3 linked regions of the Homo sapiens genome follow. The protein of the gene in region 3 interacts with the protein of the main gene of each other region in a pairwise test. Each region holds a gene or a part of one and is shown on either strand. Other genes may lie near its edges.

Region 1 (7,956 bases), on a different chromosome or scaffold from region 3:
TCTCTGCAGGTCAGAACGAGGTCTAAACCCTCAGGGCCCTGACTCCCTCTGCCCCCCAGTGGTCGCTAAGGCCCTGCTAGACACACCTCGATGACCCGGTTGCTACGGATCTTCTCTTCCAGCTCCGAGAACGACCTGGAGGCAAAGGGGGGCTGCCCGAAGAGGGCTTCTGTGGAAGGGAGGCAGAGCGGAGGCTGGGAGGGAATGGGTCAAGCCTGGCCTGACGCCCCTCAGCAGGGGCCCTGGGCCAGCAGTCAGTTTTCATCAGAACCCTTCAGAAGTGGCCCAGAGAGGCCTTGCCTGAGGAAACTGTAGGCCTCAGGGTGAGAAGCAGGGAAAAGAGGTCTCACCATACAGGATGACCCCCATGGACCAGAGGTCCACGCGGGCGTCATACTGCCGCTGGCACACCATCTCGGGGGCCATGTAGAGGGGGGAGCCACGGAGCACGTGCTTCTCATCCCACGGGGACATGTGTTGTGCGAAACCAAAGTCTGCAGGCAAGAGGAGAGGCAGCAGGGCTTGAATTCCAGCTGCTTCAGCTCCTGACTTGTAAAGCCTCACCCCAGGCTCCTCTCCACCCTCCAGACCCGCCAGGATCAACCCTATTTCCAAGCCTCTGCTCATCATTAGGCTGGAACACCCTCCTATATCTGCCTCTGGGGTATAAAACCTACCCATCCTTCCCAGCTCCCTTGGGCACCTTTTCCTAGGAAGCCCACCTGATCACACCAGCTACCTGCATAAGCCCCCACCCTCTCACTGTCCCCCCAGGCTTAGGTTCTATCACAGTCTCTGGCCTCCAGTGTCAATTATCCAAATCTTATCAAGGGTCACCACCTCCTACTCCCCCACCACACCCCTCCTATGTGGCCACAGATGGAGTCACAGACTTGAGCCCCAATTCTGATGACAGACCAAGTCCTGTCCCTGCCCACAGAGGGATCCCTGATGCTTGTCACACGCTGAACCCTGGCACTGTTCCCAGATTGACCCCTAAACCTGGACACACAGTGAGTCCCAACTCTGGCCACAGACTGAGCCCTAACTCCACCCATTATGCTGCTGGACTTGAGCATGGGTAGCCTGAGAAAGCTTCCACCTTTTGATGACAGGGCCCAACCCCAGACTTCACGGCCTGTCACTCTTTGAGGACTCTATAGAGGGCTCCATAAGAACCAGGGCTGCTGAGTGAGCCCAGGCAGAGGGAGGCCTCTGCACTCTCCAAACCTCATCCCTGCTGTTTCAGACACAGACCTGCCAGTTTTAGGTGGGGCTTCTCCAAGGAGCTCAGTAGAATGTTCTGTGGCTTCAGATCCAGGTGAGAGATATTCCGTTCATGCAGGAATTGCAGGGCGCTAGCTGAGGAGCAGGACCCACGAAGAGAGACAGTTCAGAGCCCATTCCCGCCTGCCTCTCGCCTCCCCGGCTCACATCTGCCTCCTCAAGCCTGCACAACCCCAGTTCCTGCCTGGCTGGTCTAATGTTTTCCATATAAGCACCAAGATCACACCACTTCTAGGAGTTTGCCACCCCACCCGAGTGCCCACCCTCCTTCCCTCTGCCCCTTCACAAGTCTCCCCACCTCTCAGAAGCTTCTCTGGATGCCCCAGCCCTTGAGATCCTGCTCTTTTCCTTGGCACAGCACTTGAGTCCTACCTACAGGACTCTGGAATGTTCTACAAGGTCCTTATATTATGTTCTATGTATGGAAGCCTGAACACCCCACAGAGGGGTTACCCCCTCATCTCTCCCACAGCGTCCTTGAGCAAGGGTTGAGTGTATGAGATAAACAGGACCATAAAATTTCAGGCTGTGCAGGAGGCAGCTGCAATGCGTGCCAAGGCTCTAAGCCTGGGGGAGGGGTGGGATGGTGGGGGGCAGAGAACAAGGGACAGAGTGTCAGGCTGGTGTCACAGGCCTTTACCTAATTGCTGCATGAAGACACGCGCCACCTTCTCAGGCAGAATCCTGCGGGTATGGATGAAGCGAGACAGGTCGCCCCCTGCGCAAAACTCCATGATGAGGTAGATATTGTCACTGTCCCACTGTGTTTAGAGGCAGAGAGGCGGCCTGAAGAGAGTGTCCCTTCTCCAGCTCCCTTTGGCAGCGGCCCCGCCCCAGGCTCACACCTGAAAGTCTTTCAGCTGCACAATGTGGGGATGTCGAATGCCCTTGAGGATCTCAATCTCCGTGAGGAGGTTCTCCACCGATGCCTTGTTCAGACTTTTCTTGGCTACACACTTTATGGCTACCACTTCACGAGTGTCCTTCTGCGAGACAGGAGATTTGGGGACTCTGCCTTGAGGGGGCCAGGACCCTTGTCTGACTGGAAAGGCTCTATCTGGTTCCCTCTGTTCCCCCACCCCGCCCCTCCCCGGGTCTACCTACTGCACACCAGCACCGGGCTTCCCAGCTTTCCCTTGTGAGGCCAGTGAGGAATGCTGATTCTGGAATCCTGGCTTCCCGACACAGCCTCAGCCTGGTCTTCTCCAACCCTCGGCTAGCTGATCCATTTCTTTGCATTCTGGAGTGCTCCCGGCAGAGGCATGTCACTCAGGGTTCTAGAACCGCCCACTCTGCCTCCCAACTGGCTCCAGTCCCAGACTCCTCCCAGCCCACCAGGTAACCTGTTTTGAGCCTGTTCTTCAGCCACTGACCCTGCAGGTGGGTGCAGGTGCGCTCTTTAAGACCTAAGCGTGGCAGTCGGCTCCAACCTCCGCCGAGGGTCAGCTGGGGCGAGGCCGGCCTCCCGCCCCTAACTATTCCCACACTGTCGCTAACCTCTCAGAGTCTCCCCGGCCGGCACCAGCCGAGCTAGCTCGGGCGGGCACGGGGCCATCGGCCGGCACCCACCTTGGCGTAGGCCTTGTACACCGTGGCGTACGTGCCGCTGCCCAGGCGCTCGGTGAGGATGAAGCCGTCCAGGCGCGGGGGACCCCAGCCGGGCCCCGCCATTCCGGCCGCCTGCGCCCGCGCGGGCGCTTCCTCGCTGCGGGCGGCGGTTCCGGCGGGTTGCGGGGCGGGCCGAGCACTGGGTGGCTCCACGCTGCCCCCAGCGCCGCCCGCCGGAAATGCAGCGCGCATCGGGGACGCGGATCCGCCCGGCTCCCGGCGCCCCTCCCCTGTCTCTGGGCCTCGCCGGGTCACGCGCCCCGCCAGTTCCTGCAGGGCCCACGTGGGGATACGGAGGCCCCGCGAGCCTAGAAGTTAACAACGGAGGACGGCCGGCGTGGTCTCCGGGGACTCCTAGCGGGCGCAGAGGCGTCTAGAGATCGCCCACGTGAGGGCGCGGGCGGCGGAGCGGGCGTGTGTGGGGGCGACGGCGTCCGGGAGGCTCCCAGGGCCCCTCCCCAGGACCCGCAGCTCTGAAAGGAGAGCTACTGGCACGAGAAGGCGCCTTTGGAAGAGGCCGCGTTGGCTTCCCAGGCCTCCCAGCTGCTTTTCACTTTTCTGAGGAAGGGCCTTGACCTATTTATTGCATCTTAACTGTCCCCGCTCTCCAATCTTAGCAGCGGCGCCCAGCCCCTAATCCTGTGGGCTGCCCCGTCCTCCCAAGTCCACCAGACATGTGGACCCGTGTTGTCTGAAAATGTTTTTATTTTTACTTAAGCACAAAAATTGAGACGTAACATATACATTTGTACATAGAGGGGAAAAAATACCAGAAAGGAGTTCATAAAACCCCAGCCGCTGCCAGTATCATTCAGTGGCTGGGGCCTGCGGCTGTCTCGGGCCCAGAGCCGGAGGCTAGTTTTGTGGGAAGGCACCCCAGTCCACACACCCACTCGGCAGCCTCGAGGGACAGGGTGCTGGTTTTAAGGGTGGACTCCTACGTGTCCCATCACAGTGACACACCCCCCAGGGTGTGAACCAGACTCCACTGGGTATTAGGGGGCCCTCCGAGAGATGGCTTATCAGTCCCTGCTGAGGGATGCGGTTCTGGACTGGCTGGCCCTGCCCTTCCTGAAAGTCTGGATGCTGCTGATGGGGAGCATGGGCGGGGCAGGTGGCATCTGAGGCAGAGACAAAGGCAGCCGTCCCTCGGTTCGGGGAGGGGGGGGGGTAGTCACAGCAAACAGGGCCAAACCAACCACACCAGGACAGGCAGACCCCACCCTCCTAGAAGACGCTGGACGCTAGGCAGGACAGCTTGGGGTCAGTGTCCTTGGTCCCTTCCAGTCCCCAAATCCCAACCAACGGCATTGTACATTCAGAAAGTCTGAAGAGAGTAAGGCTCAGCAAGGGGAGGGCTCCAGAGGGCTCAAAGTGCCATCCCCTGCAGGAGGGTGCAGGGGGATAAAGGGCTATTAATCCGTTTCTCAGGAACACGAGGCAGGGAAGAGCTTAAGGCAACCAGCCTTCTCTGGATCCGTTTATGAGGCAGAGAAGAGCTTGAGGCAACCAGCCTTCTCTGGAAGCCTGGAGACCACTGGAGTGACCTGGGGAACAGATCTGTCCACCAGAACCTGTGAGAGGCTTATTCCCAGCCCAGGCAGGAAGGACTGGGCTGTGTCTAAGAAGCCAGATTCAGGCCAGGCCTGCAGGGTGGGGGAGTCAAGGCCCAGGACCCTGGCAGAAAGCTCCAGCTGGGATGGGCCCAGGTCAGCCTGTGATCCCAACTGTGTGGGGGTGTCTGTGTGTGCACAGGACGAAGAGAACTTCAGTCCCACTGCTTCCAGAGACAAAAGAATCCTACCAAACCATCACCAGAGAAGGAAAGAGAGCTTTGTTTTTTTTTGTACATAGAGGGGGAAAAAATTCCCTGTCCCTCCCGTTCCAGGGAGAGCTGGTCGCTGAGGGAGGAGGAAGAGCCACGGCAAGAACCCTGCCAGGTCTGTGCTGGGCACAACCACCACCACATAAGGCACCCACGGAAAGTGCAGCTCAGAAGGCAGGCGAGAGAAAGGCTGAGGGGGAGAGAAGAGAGGAGGACTAATTCCCCTGGAAGGCTCCTTGGGCAGCAGATGAAGCAGCTCTGTGGAAGGTTCTGCTGCTGAAGATGCCCTGGGAAAACTCCTCCTGGGCCTGCTGGAAGCTGGCCCCTGTCCGTCGGTAGAGGGAGTGCACCTGGCGAAGAGGGGTGGGGTGAGAGAAGCCTGTCCTTTGGGCCCACCAGGAAGCCAGCCATCCAGGTTATACTCCCAAAGGGGTCACCAGAAGCCTGGCACTGCCTGACCCCCCACCCAGATCCCTGGAGAAAGGTACTGGACCTTTGGGGGCCTAGGATGCCCAACTGCAGTGGTGAAAAACATCTCGTGGCAAGGGCAGGAAACGGTTGCCTGCCTCCTCCCATTTGCTGTCAGCCCTGCCCACACCACTCACCCGCTGCAGGAGGAAGACTGAGAGCACGGCACAGAGGGTGAAGAAGCCAGCCACCACCATCATGATGACTGATATGGCCAGGGAATGATTATCCAGTGTAGACAGGGCTGCAATCCAACCGCTATAAAGGGAAGAAGAGGCCAGAGGGAGCAAAGTGGGAGTGGGCTCCAAAAGTCAGCATAAGGGGCTCTTCTCCAAGTGGCTGCTGTGTCCTGACCATCACCTTGGCATCTCCCCACAGCACAGGGAGCCCTGTGAGCCAGAAGCCCTTGGCCTGTGAGGCCAGACCTCCGTGAAGGCTGACAGGCCCACACTACCCCATTCACAAGGGGAATCTTCTGGTTATGTGAGGTCTGAAAGGGAGGATGTGGTTGCTGCCTTCACAGAGTCAGAAGTAGCACCGGGCTGGGTGCTATGGCTCTCACCTGTAATCCCAGCACTTTGGGAGGCTGAGGCAGGAGGATCGCTTGAGCCCAAGAGTTCAAGACCAACCTGGGCAACAGAGGGAGGCCCTGTCTCCATAAAAAATAAAAAAAGGCCAGGTTCGTGCCTGTAATCCCAGCACTTTGGGAGGCCAAGGAAGGCAGATCACTTGAGGTCAGGAGTTTGAGACCAGCCTGGCCAACATGGAGAAACCTTGCTCTACTAAAAATACAAAAATTAGCTGCGCGTGGTTGCACACGCCTGCAATCCCAGCTACTCGGGAGACTGAGGCAGGAGAATCACTTGAACCTGGAAGGTGCAGGCTGCAGTGAGCCGAGATCATGCCATTGTACTCCAGCCTAGGTGACAGGGCGAGACTCCAACTCAAAAAAAAAAAAAATTAGCTGGCTGTGGTCATACATGCCTATGCTCCCAGCTACTTGGGATGCTGAGGTAGGAGGATCACTTGAGCCCGTGAGGTTCAAGGCTGCAGTGAGCTGTGATCACGCCACGGCACTCCAGCCTGAGCAACAGAGTGAGACCCTGTCTCCAAAAAAAAAAAAAAAAGAAAAGAAAAAAGAAAAAGGGCTGGGCACAGTGGCTCAAGCCCGTAATCCCAACACTTTGGGAGGCCAAGATGGGCGGATCACGAGGTCAGCAGATCGAGACCATCCTGGCTAACACAGTGAAACCCCATCTCTACTAAAAATACAAAAAATGAGCCAGGCATGGTGGCAGGCACCTACATAGTCCCAGTTACTCGGGAGGCTGAGGCAGGAGAATGGCGTGAACCTGGGAGGCGGAGCTTGCAGTGAGCAGAGATCGCGGCACTGCACTCCAGTCTGGGCAACAGAGACTCCATCTCAAAAAATAATTAATTAAAAAGGTAGCACTGGGCCGGGCCTTTTTCTGCTGCTTTGGGGGTGGGGAGTATGGAAAGCGTGGCTGCTCACTCCTGAGGACCCACCTTCTGTGAAGGAGGATCACTGGCCAACTTGCTGTCACCTGTCTGAGCCCCATGTCCTCATCTGTAAAAGGGATATCCTCATATTTCTTGACATCAAAACTTACTACAAAGCTACAGTCACTAAAATAGTGTAGGACTGGCATAAACATAGACATATAGATCAATAGATCAATGGAATAGAACTGAGATTCCAGAAATAAACCCATACACCTATTGTCAGTTAATTTTTTTTTTTTTTTTTTTTTTTGAGATTGAGTCTTGCTCTGTAGCCCAGGCTGGAGAACAGTGGTGTGATCCCGGCTCACTGCAACCTCCACCTCCCGGGTTCAAGTGATTCTTCTGCCTCAGCCTCCCAAGTAGCTGGGATTATAGGCACCTACCAATGCGCCTGGCCAATTTTTGTACTCTCTAGAAACAAGGTTTTGCCATGTTGGCCAGGCTGGTCTCAAACTCCTTCCTGACCTCAGGTGATCCACCCGCCTTGGCCTCCCAAAGTGCTGGGATTACAGGCATGAGCCACCGCACCCAGCCAACTCAAGCCTTCTGATTCCCAGTACAGGTGCAAACGGCAGTCATGAATCACAGCTTTTCTACCAGGGTCTTACTTAGGTAAGGAGTAATGAAATTGGGTCACTGGTCAAAAGGGACCAGATTAACAACAGCAGGGCAAGAAGCATGAGGGGTGGTGGGAGGGCAGCGTGCACTTGTTTGGAGGGCAAGGGGAGGCAACCTTTCTCTCCCCACTGCTCTGGACTTGCCAGCTCTGCCAGAGGGAGGGGACCAAAATAGCACCGCCCTTCCAGGCTCAGGCTGTCAGCCAAGTGCCAGTCTGACCTTTCTGCAATGCTCCCTGTGCACTGGGGCAGAAAGGAAAACATCAGCCATCAGCTTTTCTTTTGAGATTAATTTTGAGCTGAGGACTGAGGTACCCTGGAAACTCAAACCAGCCGTATGCTCAAAGAGGGCAGCCAGAAGAAGCCTGTCCAGGGGAGGTGAGGGAACCGTCTCCTTAAGTTACAAGGCATCTGGAAAAAGTTGCAGCTCAGAGTCTGCAAAGGCCTGGGCATCCATCAGCTTTCAGGAGGGTGTGGCAGGAGAAAAGGAAGAGGCTGCAATCCAGTGCAGGACACTGTCATGGTAGCCTAAAGAGTCAAGCCAAGTTCACCCACAATACCCTGGAAAGTGGAGAGCAAGGGAAGATAGTGTCTTTTTTTTTTTTTTTTGATACAGGATCTCACTCT
Region 2 (7,021 bases), about 17 Mb from region 3:
AGCAGCAGTGTTATTCATTCAAAGTTGGGTGTTTTAGAAATGAAATCAGAAATCTGTGCTTACTTACCCAGCGAACAAGGACATTCTGTTTTAAAATATAGAATGTACTTATCTCTTTTATTTTACTTTAAGTTCCGGAATTCATGTGCAGAATGTGCAGGTTTGTTACATAGGTATACGTATGCCATGGAGGTTTGCTGCACCTATTGACCCGTCCTGTAAGTTCCCTCCCCTCGTCCCACCTACCCCACAACAGGCCCTGGTGTGTGTTGTTCCCCTCCCTGTGTCCATGTATTCTCATTGTTCAACTCCTGCTTATGAGTGAGAACATGCAGTGTTTGGTTTTCTGTTCCTGTGTTAGTTTGCTGAGGATGATGGCTTCCAGCTTCATCCATGTCCCTGCAAAGGACATGATCTCATACCATTTTATAGCGGCAAAGTATTCCATGGTGTATATGTACATTTTCTTTATCCAAGCATACTTCTAACTTTGCATAGTGAACAAGACTTGACAATTCTAGCCTGAAATCTCTGAGTATATGACATTAGCATATGGAGATTCCATGCTGTGTAGACCAGAGATGGCACACTGGCACTCTGGGGGCTGAATCCCAGATTTAAAAATAGGGAATTTCGGCAGGGCACAGTGGCTCACACCTGTAATCCCAACACTTTGGGAGGCCAAGGGCAGCAGATCACAAGGTCAGGAGTTCGAGATCAGCCTGGCCAACATGGTGAAACCCTGTCTCTACTAAAAATACAAAAATTAACCAGGCGTGGTGGTGTATGCCTGTAATCCCAGTTACTCAGAAGGCTGAGGCAGGAGAATTGCTTGAACCCAGGAGGCGGAGGTTGCAGTGAGCAGAGATCGCACCACTGTACTCCACCCTGGGACAGAGTGAGATTCTGTCTCAAAAAAAAAAAAATCAATAAATAAAAAATAGGGAATTTCCTATATAAATCCCTATTTGGAGCTTCTCTGGAAACACTGAAGGTCTAACCACCTGGGGTCCTTAGCCCTTCACGGTAATAAGAAGTGGAAGAAATGTCCGTACCTCTTCAGGCTGGGCGTGTGCTCTGCAGCTCACCACAGTCCCCATTTTTTGCCTGTTGCCACTTGCCATTTTTTTTTTTTAGCTGTCATTTTTTTGTGTGCCTTCATAGCCACTTGTTTTACTGGATGAAAAATATTTCTCTGTTCCTATGCCTATAACAAAAGTGACAAAGTAAAAGCCTGAAAAAAAAAAAAACCTTATACTTAAAGAAAAATTGGAAGAGAAGAAAAATTGTTCTTTTTTAGAAGAGAAGAGCAATTTCTTACTGTTTGACAAGCACACACCCAGCTTCCTTGAGTCTTTTATTTTCCTCCTCTGCCCTGACAGCATTTAAATTCAGCTTCTGGTACAGATAGTTAACACTGCTTGAGAAGTGAATGGAATGTAGCAGCCTGTCCATTACCTTGAGAATTAGCATGTATTTCTAACTCGCAGTATTTCTAAATTCTGCTTTGACTCCAAGAATTAACTTGGATAAATCATTCACTACAACGAATCTACACTTAGCACCCTCATATATCAAATATGCCCAAAACATGATAATTTTAGTACTTAGTATGTGCATAGTACTATTATAAGTGCTTATGCATATATTAGTACATTTAACCCTCATAATTCTACCAGGCAGGTACTATTACAATTATCCCTATTTTACAGAGAAGGAAACTGAGACACAAGTTACATGTCTAGATTATACGACTAATGTGGCAGAAATGAGACAGGAACCCAGGCTGACTGTACCAAACTTAAGGGAAAGCTTTCAAAAGATCATGAAATCTTTGGAGGATCTGAAAATGACAGGAACAGAAGTAGTACTTTGTATCTCAAAGCCCAAATATGAAAATGAATGATATGGCTATGTTCTAATTGTCTTCATTCTGCAATCAAATATCAGCGAATCCTCTGGAGCCATTGGCAGCACCAACATGCCCACAGTGGAGGCAAAGTGAGGGACTGGTTCCAGTTTCCACTCAGCACTGATCTGCTGTGCCTCGGGGCATCTCTTGGTCCTTGAGTTTACTTTTGGTGGAATTAGGGCATGGGACTTGCTCTAAGGTGGTTTCTTCCTCTAAAGCTGTGTGATTCTGTGACTCTGTATCAGGAATTGAGCTAGCATTTGTCTAAGAAAAAAAAAAGGATAAATGTTTCTGCTTTTTGCATCACATGAACAAAGGTTAGCGGAGAAGACAGTGCCACCGAAGGACCCTGTATGCTACACACCTTTCTTTCAAGAGATGCACAAGTGCCCCAGTGCCTCAGCCAGGCCCCAGTAAACATTAAACATCGATTCCTTCTCTTTCGAGCTCACATGTCACCTCTTCCAAGCCTCCTGCCCCAACCTACACATATAGACCCGAGAATGGTCCTCTCCCTTGATGCCATAGTGCCTTGTCCTCACCTCACTGCCAGCCCCTTCCCCGTGGCAATGACCTGCAGGTGTACCCTCTGCTTCAGCCTCGACACTCTCCAAGACTGCTTCATCTTTGTCTTCTCACTCCACTTGCAGTAGCAAGTCCTCAAAGATTGTTTGAAGGGCCCAAATGTGAGTTTTAGTCTTTGCTATTATTTTCTGTACCACCTTGGCTAAGTACCTCAAAATTCTCAGTGCTTCTATTTTGTCATACACAAAACAAAGATAAACTGTTGGGCCCAACTAAAAGTTCTGAAGTTCTGAAGTGGAAGAACAGTGAATACCACAGAATAGCTGGGGCAGGCAGGCAGCCTGGGCCCTCCCACAACAATGCCAAGATGACTGAGTCTCAGAGGATCACAGAAAGTCCCCCTCCATGCGGTCAGATCAGGCCTTTGGCCTTTGGGTAAGGCTGTACTCAACTACCAAAGAAAGACAGCTTTATCTCTCTTTCAAAGAGTTCCAGCAAACCTTTGAAGTCAATGTTATGATGTTCCTGGCTAGGTGACATTGGGGAAAAGCTTCCTGTGATTTGCCCCAATTCCCTCCCCTCAGCGTCAATCCTCGGTGGAGGCAAAGAACATTTGCTCATGGCCAGCAGCTCACATCAGGTGCCTTGCTCATTCACAGCCTAAAAAATGGAGGCGAGGGGCAGGGAAAATTGTAGTTCATTCTTTATTTTGAAACCTTAATCAATGAATTAATGCCATCATTACACATTTTCTAAGACAGGAGACAAAAAGTTACAGCAAACTTGGGGTTCTCTGGGAGTTGTGGTTTACCAGGCCCACTGACACCATTCAGTTCCTTAGAAGGAGCTTGTCTCCCTTTGCATTAATTATCTTACATTGAAAAGATTCTGTTACTTTCATTTATCCTCCTAGGAAAAGTGGATTATATGCAAAATCATTAGATGACCCTTCTCATGGTAATTCTGAGTTCCATTTTACCTTTACAGGTTTATAATTAGACTTCGTATTCTAGGTTTGAATGTGTCCTAACTTTACAAAAGTCAGTGAATACTGTTAATTTCTTTTAAAAAGGTACTAGAAATAGTATATCCGGGTTTATGTTTTTCTCCTGGACCTAATTCTTCTGCCTCTGTACATTTTAGCAAGCAAACCTTTTAAGCATTTTGCCTCTTGGACTACTGCTTTTTTTCTGCATAAGGAATAGCAGTTACAAAGCCAAAAGGACCTTCTTTACATGGATCTTGCTTTGTCTTTACCTTGACAGAGGAGTGAATTAAAGATGCATTCAGCTATTGCATCAACTGGATGTTAACAAGAGAAGATAATCCGTTACATGATGTGCCTTCTTCTGTGCCCCAGAAACTTCTTCATACCTTTACCATCCCTCTCCTCTTTCAATCCCAGCTTCTGAAAAAAGAACTCGTCCTGCACTAGGTCCTTAATCCCATGAGAAGCTTCCATAACTCCCTGTCGCTTCTCTTACAATATAAAAGGTGCTCACGCCTTGAACCTTAAAAAAGTTCTTCAATCACTTGCAGATGATTTTTAAACTAGGACACATAGTTGGCTTTGGTGGACTGTAAAGAACTGAAGTAAAGGCGAAATGTTAAAAAAAATAAAAAATAAAAAAACAGCCAGAAAAACAAACCTTTACCCTGCCATGTGTGAAACTGTAGATGAGCTAGAACGAGAGTCCCCAGCTTAATGAAAACTGCCGAGGGTGGCAATAGTCCTGCTTGCCTGTGTTTCAGGGGTGGGCAAGATAAGGGATAGTGAAGATAGGGGAGTGACTAAGAGCATATCACAAGTTCATGTAGATAGTAACTTTCATGATACTGGCAAATAAGTAGCTGGACGTTACACAATAATACTTTACCTTTCTGGTTCTAACGCATTATCTTTTACGGTAGTTACAAGGACAGCCACATGTTATCAGTATTTATATGCTATTACAACACATTTGACTAAGGAGCTGATCTCAGTGTAAGATGCTTTGCTAGCATGTATACAAAAAATCAAAATGAATTAAAGGAAGTAAAGGCTTAATGTAAAAATAAAATAGGGCAGGGATAAGCACGTTTTTTCTGTGAAGGGTCAGTAAACAGGATAGGCTTTGCAGGCTCTCCATCTCCGTCACAACTCCACTCTGCCATTGTAGCATGAAAGCAGTCAAAGACAATATGTAAATACATGGGCATGGCTGTGTTCCAGTACAAATTTATTTACAAAAACAGGCAGCAGGAAGGACTGGCACACAAGCCATAGTTTGTCAAGCCCTGAAGATGAGGAAATCCCCCAAATAAGCAGAAGCACTTTAGTACTCTCCATAGAGCCCTCACTTACCCCTAGGTTACAGGGCTACATACAAGCTGTGTTTAACCTTAGAATATAAGCTCTGTGAGGTCAGAAACGTTGCAATATTCACAACTGTATTCCCAGTACTCAGTTCCCAGAGAACTGGCATAGTTGGCACAAGTACGGACTCACAATAAAGACATGTTCAATGAATTAACTAATGAATGAACAACTTATGGAGCTTTAAAAGGCAATCCTGACCATAGATGATTTTCCTATACTACCACGTCCACCCTCACTGTCATCCCGTCACGCCCCACTTCTTTGCAAACTGGACAACTGTACTGGGACTAGGGTACCAAAATTATGACTCCTTCTAAAAACTTTTACACTAATTTAGGAAAAAACTTGCTTTTCAACAGCTAAGATCACATGAAGGCATGTATATCTTACATTTTTCTTACTCCCCTTTGTCTTAGTTAAATCATTCTCTAGTAAATTCTCTTTCAAAGCAAAGGCAATGTCCAAGAGGGCAAAACCATTAATAACTATCTTTTGGGAACCACAAGTTCATGCAGATAGTAACTTTCATGATATTGCCAAATACGTATTTGGGCATTATACAATAGTACTTTCCTTTCCGGTTCTCAGGCATTATCTTTTATGGTAGTCAAAAGAGCAGTCACATGTTATCAATACTTTATCACAGGTCATGCTTCACCTATAGAAAGGTAAAAAATAACTCACACTGATCTCTCCTAAAAAAACGTGTGGTTCTCATAAGCTCTGGGCCATCGTTATACATTTATTAAGTGGCTACTAAGGGTTCTTGACATGGTGGGAAAAGCACCAAATGAAAAGCAAGGCACTATTGTGGCCCTTTCATTTCAAAAAAAGTGAGTTAGGATGACAATCATCTGCTAGGAACTACAAGTTCACGCAGATAGTTACTTTCATGATATTGTCAAATATAGTTGGACATCACACTTATAATACTTTATCTTTTGGTTCAGAGGCATTATCTTTTATAGCAGCCATGATGAGCTTATTTAAAGATAAAATATAACTGAATGCTAATTAACATAGATTTGAATGCTAAATTCATTAGGAACTATGTTCAAAGCCTAATGTTGAACAAACTTCAGACAATAGAGTTAAGAATTTTTTTTTTCTGTAAAGGACCTTAATGATCACTTGACATTCTCACTCTACAGATGAGATCCAACTAAGAAGAACAGAATACTTGCTATCTTCAGAGTAGAATATTTTGAAATGTGTGAGTATAATACATGTTTTATAGCCAACTAAAGATGTATCAAATGTTCCCCACGTGCTCCTTGGTAAAAAGCATATGAATATTTTGCTAATCCTGAGCCCATATAGTTTAAAAAAAGGGGGGAGCAGATGTTTGAAGATGTGCTATCCTCAAACTCAAACATGACTTCACATGTCAACATATGTTGGATTTGATTTCAGCCTGCTCAGGTAAGTCCCACGACAAGACACTCTTCCTACCCAGGAAGACTTCAACTTTCAAAGCACAGAGAGTCAGGTACTTAATGTGCAAAGATAGTTCAGTTTCCTTGGAAGAAAATCAGGAATAGAAGCCTTCTGTTTGGGTTGAGTGTTTCCCTAAAACCTGTTGAGTAGTAGTTTTTCCTAATATTGGACAGCAGTTAACTAGGAGCAGACAGATTGAATGAAGATGCCCATATCAACCTTGGTTACCACCTTGAGGTAGGCCTGAGCTGCTGCTTTTACTTCTTTGGCTGCAATCAAAGGCATCTCTGATTTTCTTCCTGCCACAACATTTCCTTAGCATTTTAATGCAATTTGCCCCAGAAAATGATTTGTTTCACCAAATTCTTTTTACTAGGTAATTTTCTAGAACACATGTGCTTTTATAAGGAAGTTAAAACTGTATTTCAAAGGTAAGCACAACCACAAACTAAGACACAATTACACTGTAATCCCAAAACGTGTATAAGTCATCCGGCACACACACACCTCTGTTTGCGCATTCTCCCTGATTCAACCACATCAACCATAAACACTGAGGTTCACAGATAGGAGAGTTCTAATACTCTAAACATAGGCCCTTCTCAGAAAGCCACAGTCATCAAAGACCACAGGTGAAAGACAACAGTTAAATGAGATACTATTCACAGGCTTTCAGATCAACATACACAGAGAGGTCATTATATCCAGAATTCTCCCAAGGAACCACCAGGCAAATACACACACTCACATAGATCCCACAAGCAGAAAAATGCATTTTATAAGGGCAG
Region 3 (7,021 bases):
AATACACACGTGGGAGACAGCTGGCATCATCTGAGTCTTGGAATAGCTTTCTTGTTTGTTATCTGCAAAAAGCTAGGTGGCCTTTTTAGTATCAAATTTCAATCTTGGCCTCACTGGAACCATGCTCTACAGAGCTTTCCCAACAGTTTAGCAAGTAAGCAAAATCAGCTTTTGCTCTTCATATTTCGTAGGTGAGACTGGGGCTTTTAAAAGAAATATTTCATAAAAAAGACAAAAGCATAAATGAGAAATTAGAGGGATTTTAGTTATCATTAAAGGAAAAAACTCACAAATTGATCCCATTTGTTCCATGGGGAAGAAAAGTATTATAAAAGGAAATAACTTGATTTTTAGGTTTGAAGGGGGTCCCAATCTAATAATAAAAGTCTTTTGATAAAACCATCATAAAAATAAAAACTAATTTAAAATATAACTGCCAGTGTTTTTTAGGATTTAAAAAGGTGAGATGTTCCAGGTTTAAGCAAATGGTTCCTTGGGTTGCCAAATGCATTCCCATGAGTGTTTCTTAGGCTGAGGGAATAGAGAGCCATGCTCAATCTGTTTACCCGTAAGGACTGAAATTCAACTACATGTACACATTTAAGACTTGCCCTAGTTCAATGGTCAGCTCAAGTACTGGAGATTTAGGCTACTGGCTGTGTACCGGCATGGGAAGCTGTCTTCAACTCTTTCACAACTCACGCCAGAACAGAGAAGCTTGACAGGGCAGGAAAAGCGAGCAACTGCGTGTCAAACCTGCAGGTGAAACCCCTAGTGTAGAAGAGCAACTATTTATTTGTCAACCCTACAGATTTTGTTTTTAAAAATTAAGCTTAGTACTAAAAAGTCAAAATTTTTTTGCATGATAGAGGAGTGTAAATAAAGTTCCATAAACCAGTATACATATGCTTATGAGCCAATAATCTTAAAAAGACAAAAAAAGCTGCATGGATCCTAAATGACTATGTAAATAGATCCACTCCAGGTCAAAAATATTGTAAGCACAAGTCTTAAATTCTTAATAGCAAGGATTAGAATGAAAGAAGAAGCTGAGCAGTAGCAATGCTGGGAGGAAGTACTGTGTATTGAATATTATTCCCTAAAAGGAATAGAGGAGGGGAGAAAAAGCACAATTCTGATTGCTCTTTTCACATTTCAGTATCTCAGAACTTCATCGAAAATAGGAAAAGCTAATCCAGAAACTCTCATCTGCTCATTATCATTGCTGAAGGGTGTTTTAGGAATGACAGAATTACTCCCCCAGGGACAGGCTGTGTGTGGTAGAAAGCCACTCTCACAAGGAGGCTGGCTGAGGAGGGGGACTTTGGGAGGAGGCTAAGTCAGCAAGCAAGTGGCCTCTGAGGTTCTGGCTTTCACGTCTGTGACACTGCTGTGGAACTGGGGAGACATGAGACCCCTCTACTGTGGGTTCTGTTGGTTAAAAATGCAACAGACTACATTTATAGCACTTCAGTCATTTAAAAAACAAAAGCTTATCCTCCTTCCCCTACCCTACCCAACTGTAGGAAAGGAGAAATTCATGAAGCATTTTTTTTTTAAAGGTTTCTGCAGTGCTATGAAAGTTCAAAGGTAAAACCTAACAGCCCCACATTGTTAGGATGATCTCCAGGGACCCTGAATTGGATACTTGAAGGTTGATAGAAACTGAAATGAGCTGGACTTAAGCTGCTGGCTCACTCCCTCCACACCACAGTCATTTCTGTTTGTTCCACCTGGAGTGGTCCCGTGCCACCCCTCAGTGAACCCTCCGGGCAGCAGCAGGGGGGCTGTTTTTGGGAAGCTACTGGTTTTGCCATTTGCTTCCAGAATCACATAGACTATAACAAACTTTACATTAAACACTGTTCTGTCCTGAGTTGGGGGAAAGCCCATTGAGGAGGGGCCGAGTTCACTGGGACTCTTCCCTCCTTGGCGTGGCGTCATACGTGGCCCTCAGGTTTCTCTTCTTCCATTGCTTGACTGTCTGTTCCTTTTTCATTAGTGACCCCTTCTGAAGTCTTCTTGCCCATTGCTTTATTGGCCTCTTCCTAAGGAAGAAATAAGCAATCAAGAAGGTTAGAGAATAAAGAAGTGAAATAATTCCTGGCTCCTCCAGACTGTGTATCAGGTCCCAAACACGAGGTATTGCAATGATTTTCTCTAGGATATCTAGCTGGGTAGGTCAGGGCTGTGCTACCAATAGTTAGAGTGGGAGCTTCACCTTTCTTTGGTTGACACATGGGACAGCTGTGGGATAATGAAGTCTGGGCATTCCTGGAGACTGGGGACAGGACCAGAATGCCAACTATGCTGTAGGGAGGCCGCCCTCTCTGCAGACAGACCTCTCCTGCCACATTTTTCAGGCTGGCTGCCGACCCTCAAGATAACAGGTGTGATGATGGGGCTCCTATAACATCCCATTTCCTGGGAAAATCGTAAGTCTTACTTGAAAAAAAAATCCTGATGGGTTTACAATTTTTCAAAAATGACAAAAGGGCTGGGCATGGTGGCTCATGTCTATAATCCCAGCACTTTGGGAGACCAAAGCAGGAGGAACCCTTGAAGCCAGGGGTTCGAGACCAGCCTAGACAACAAAGTGAAACCCTATCTTTACAAAAAATTTTAAAAAATTAGCCCAGTGTGGTAGTGTGCTTGTCCTAGCTACTCAGGAGGCTGAGGTGGGAGGATCACTTGATCCAGAGAAGTCAAGGCTGCAGTGAGCCATGTTAGCACGACTGCATTACAGTCTGGGTGACAGAGTGAGACTCTGACTCGGGCAGGGGCCCGGGGGGCGGGCGGGGGGAGTTGGTGCAAAATTGCTGTTTTTGCCATTGAAAGTAATGGTAAAAACCACAATTACTTTTGAACCAATCTAATACATCTGAAGGGAATTTAGTTTTCTCATCTCTCATGACGTGTGCCTTTGGTGACTGGAACTGCCCTACTCGACCTTTGGATCCAAAGCAGCCTCAGATTAGATTGGAAATCGTTTTCCCTGCTCTTGAGCCTCTTGGGTTGTTTAGCTGTTCCTGTCCCCTAAAATCAAAGGGGCATGGTCAGGCTCTTGATCCACCTGCAGTCATCAGGCTCTGCACACACCTTGGCATCCTGCTCTGCAAACTTCTTGAACATGTTGGCGTATATCCTGCGGTCCCGCTCGTTGTGCTCCTTGGCCTTTTTCTGGCACATGGAGATCTGCAGTCTTGCAGCCTTATTCTGGGGGTTTACTTCCAGCACTTTCTCAAAGTCACCCTTGGCTGACTCAAACTCGTTCATGAGCAGCTGGGCTTCACCCCTCCTATACAAGCCTTTCTCATTGGCACTGTCCAGTCCAAGGGCCTAGGAATAGATGGTCTATATTTTAGAAAGGACGAATTTTAATAAATTCAGTAAACAGCTTACCAAAGTTCTCTTGCCAAAGGAGATGGAAAAAGTGTATTTAAAAAAATGGGGCTCAAGATAATTACATACTACTGATCAAAATTTACTACCCAAATTATTTTCTGCATTTAATGCAATTTCTAGAAAGATCCCAAGGAGATTTGAGAGGGGGCTCTTGAGAAGTTCATTTTAAAGTTCATTGGAACAAATAAGTGCCCAAGAATGGCTGAAAAAATTTGGGAAAAAAGAAAAAAATAAGAGGCACTTGTCTTACCAGAGAAAAAGACAAACTTTAAAACTACTGAAATTAAGACAGTTTGGTTACTAGCATGTGGACAAACAGCTCAGTGGAACAGAACGAATCATTCAGAAACAGTCATGTGTCTGCATATAAAAACATTTGAAAATGACAAAGGTGGTAATGTGAATCAGTGGAGAGTTAACTTTAAAATAAACGGGGCCAGGATGGCAGCTATCCACATAGAAAATAAGAGTTAAGGCCGGGTGCAGTGGTTCACACCCTAATCCCAGCACTTTGGGAGGCTGAGGCAGGTGATCACCTGAGGTGAGGAGTTCGAGACCAGCCTGGCCAACATGGCGAAATCCTGTCTCTACTGAAAATACAAAAATTAGCTGGGCATGGTGGCAGGCGCCTGTAATCCCAGCTACTTGGGAGGCTGAGGCAGGAGAATTGCTTGAACCAGGGAGGTGGAGGTTGGAGTGGGCTGAGATCGTGCCACTGCACTCCAGGCTGGGTGACAGAGTGAGACTCTTGTCTCCAAAAAAAAAAAAAAAAAAAAGTTCTTACCTCATATTGTAAGCACAAAAGTAAATTCTAGATCAACCATATTTACATATTAAAAAAAACCATAAAATGTTTCAATTATTTTTTATTTTAAAATATGTAAAATATAATCATTATTTTTTTGAGGCAGGGTCTCACTCTGTCGCCCAGGCTGGAGGGCAGTGGCTCAATCACAGCTCACTGCAGCCTCTATCTCCTGGGCTCAGGCAATCCTCTCGCCTCAGCCTCCGAAAGTCCTGGGGTTACAGGTCACAGGTGTAAACCACTGTGCCTGGCTTCAGTTATTTTTATAATCTTGGTGTGGGGAAGTCTTTTCTAACTAGAAAGGAGACGACAAATCTGACTACATAAACATTAAAACCTTCTTTAAAGAGAAAGATATAATCAACAAAGCTAAAAGAAAATTGCTGGGTTGTGGTGGCTCACACCTGTAATCCCAGCACTTTGGGAAGCTGAGGTGGCAAATCACCTGAGGTCAGGAATTGGAAACCAGCCGGGCCAACATGGTGAAACCCTGTCTCTACTAAAAATACAAAAATTAGCCTGGTGTGGTGGTCGGCACCTGTGGTCTAAGCTACTTGGGAGGCTGAGGCAGGAGAATCGCTTGAACTCGGGAGGTGGAGGTTAGAGTGAGCCAAGATTGTGCCATTGCACTCCAGACTGGGTAACAGAGAAAGACTCCATCTCCAAAAAAAAAAAAAAGAGGAAAATAAGGAGAACAGGCTTCCTATTGCCAAAGATAGGGTTAATAGTGATGCTATATGACTGCTTCTGTCAATAGAAGACAGAAAAATAATGTAGTCAAGGCTGTGCTGGGTGTGGTACCTCACAACTTTAATCCCAGCTCTTTGGAAGACCCCCATCTCTACAAAAGTAAATTTAAAAATTAGCAGGGTGTGGTGGCATGCACTTGTAGTCCCAGCTACTCAGGAGGCTGAGGTGGGAGGATAGCTTGGGCCCCAGAGTTTGAGGCTGTAGTACATTATGTTCATGTGTATTAATAGCCACCGCACCCCAGCCTGGGCAAAATAGCAACAACTTGTCTCTAAAACAAACAAAACACACACACGCGCGCGCGCACACACTCTCTCTCTCTCTCTCTCCGCTCTGTATGAAAAAAACGAAAAAATACATATAAAATTAATAACTGGTCTTGGGAGAGAGGATGCGATAGGAAACACTGATCCACAAAATTCAAAAATAATCTCACAAAGAATGTACAAAATAGTTGCCTTGCTTTTCTTATCCTTTTATGTCTACCTTTAAGATACATCCAATGATTAGTTTTTACTTTTACCCACAGTATAATATATACTGTTCACTCTGAGACCAGATACCTAAAATAGTATCGGCTGGTGTATAAATATATCAGAACGATACATAACGATACAGATGATAAACCACTGTTATAGAGTACTGTGTGTAAGCACTCAAAAGACCAAAGATAGTATTAATAAGACAAATGTAAAAATAAAAAGGCTGCTGATGCTCTGTGGACCTTTCATATTATTTATGCATATCAGTGAATAAATGATTATAATAAAAATTGACCTATATATATGCTTTATATGAACAGTTGCAGTCTGTTAAAGTCCAGAAAAGCTTAAGTTAAATCTTCTCTTATTAAACTGAACCTGAGGAGTTATACGTCTACTCTGATATAAATACTACAGTTATAAGGAAGGTCGTGGATAAAAATTATTTAATTTTAATCAAAACTTTTCTTCAGAATGCATTATGATAAACAGTCTAGGTATCATAAAAGTCTGACTGTAATAAAAATCTTGCTGAATTTCCCAATTCATACTGAGAAACAAATAATCCCAAACATTCAAATAAATAAAAAAAAGCAAAATGAAAAATCCTGCAACCTTTGGCTGAGAGGAAGCAAAAGACAGAGATGGAGAAAAGATCTGGAGTATCTAAAGTCCATCTCACAGGAGACACGATGTTACCTTGTCACAGCATTCAACAGCTTTGGTGTATTCTCTAAGCTTCAGGTAGCACATGGCCAGGTTCAGAAAGGCAGCAAGGAGAAATGATTCAGAAGCTTTCGATTCCTTTTCTGATAAACCATATTCCATCTCTAACCAGGACACTATCTTCCCATACTGAATCACCGCCTGCATGTATTTGCCTCCCTAGGATAAAAAAGCGTCATTACTTGTACTCAGCTCTTGAGGGGGTACAAAAGAAAAGCAAATCCTCAAAGTGAAGCAACCCCTCCAGCAAACCCTGGTACAGCTGGTTTCTTTCTTTCCTTCTGGAGATGGCTCTCCAGGTACCTTTCCCACTCCCTTGGAGGCCTCGATGGCCTGTGGGCTGGTTTGGGGCAGTGCCTGAGCACTGCCTAGTGCTGCTCTGCAGCATTTCCATCCGTCCCTTCAGCAGGTGTAGTACAGCAAGGCTTCTGGGCTATGTTCTTTGGTGCTAATATTCTTTAGTCTTTTTTTTTTTTTTTTTTTTTTTTTTTTTTGAGACACAGTCTCGCACTGTCTCCAGGGCTGGAGTGCAATGGCGCCATCTCAGCTCACTGCAACCTCCGCCTCCCGGGTTCCAGCGATTCTCCTGCCTCAGCCTCCCGAGTAGCTGGGGACTACAGGTGGCCGCCACCAAGCCCAGCTATTTTTTTTTGTATTTTTAGTAGAGACAGCGTTTCACTATGTTGGCCAGGCTGGTCTTGAACTCCTGACCTTGTGATCCGCCTGCCTTGGCCTCCCAAAGTGCTGGGATTACAGGCATGAGCCACCACACCTGGCCTATTCTTTAGTCTTTCAAAAGGATTGTGAGCAGTTTTAGACTATGCCACTAAAAAAATGAAAAGGAAGTTACTTT

The links. Proteins that work in one complex are often made in the same cells at the same time.
Region 1: the proteins of FKBP5 (region 3) and ULK3 interact in binary tests that used the Homo sapiens proteins (3 or more experiments, as listed by UniProt).
Region 2: the proteins of FKBP5 (region 3) and CILK1 interact in binary tests that used the Homo sapiens proteins (3 or more experiments, as listed by UniProt).

The regions. Positions count from the first base shown.
Region 1 is NC_000015.10:74,840,148-74,848,103, forward strand, and holds the start of ULK3 (serine/threonine-protein kinase ULK3), read right to left. Parts: upstream 3,010-7,956; 5' UTR 2,959-3,009; coding exon 2,857-2,958; exon of another isoform or gene 2,527-2,856; coding exon of another isoform or gene 2,392-2,526; intron 2,274-2,391; coding exon 2,133-2,273; intron 2,049-2,132; coding exon 1,928-2,048; intron 1,363-1,927; coding exon 1,258-1,362; intron 561-1,257; exon of another isoform or gene 495-560; coding exon 351-494; exon of another isoform or gene 170-350; coding exon 87-169; intron 1-86. Other genes in the region: SCAMP2 (secretory carrier-associated membrane protein 2), read right to left, coding at 4,936-5,070, 5,326-5,446. UniProt on the Homo sapiens protein: Serine/threonine protein kinase that acts as a regulator of Sonic hedgehog (SHH) signaling and autophagy.
Region 2 is NC_000006.12:53,051,816-53,058,836, forward strand, and holds part of CILK1 (serine/threonine-protein kinase ICK), read right to left. Parts: intron 1-7,021.
Region 3 is NC_000006.12:35,573,895-35,580,915, forward strand, and holds part of FKBP5 (peptidyl-prolyl cis-trans isomerase FKBP5), read right to left. Parts: exon of another isoform or gene 6,663-7,021; intron 6,328-6,662; coding exon 6,142-6,327; intron 3,340-6,141; coding exon 3,100-3,339; intron 2,049-3,099; coding exon 1,941-2,048; 3' UTR 1-1,940. UniProt on the Homo sapiens protein: Immunophilin protein with PPIase and co-chaperone activities. Component of unligated steroid receptors heterocomplexes through interaction with heat-shock protein 90 (HSP90).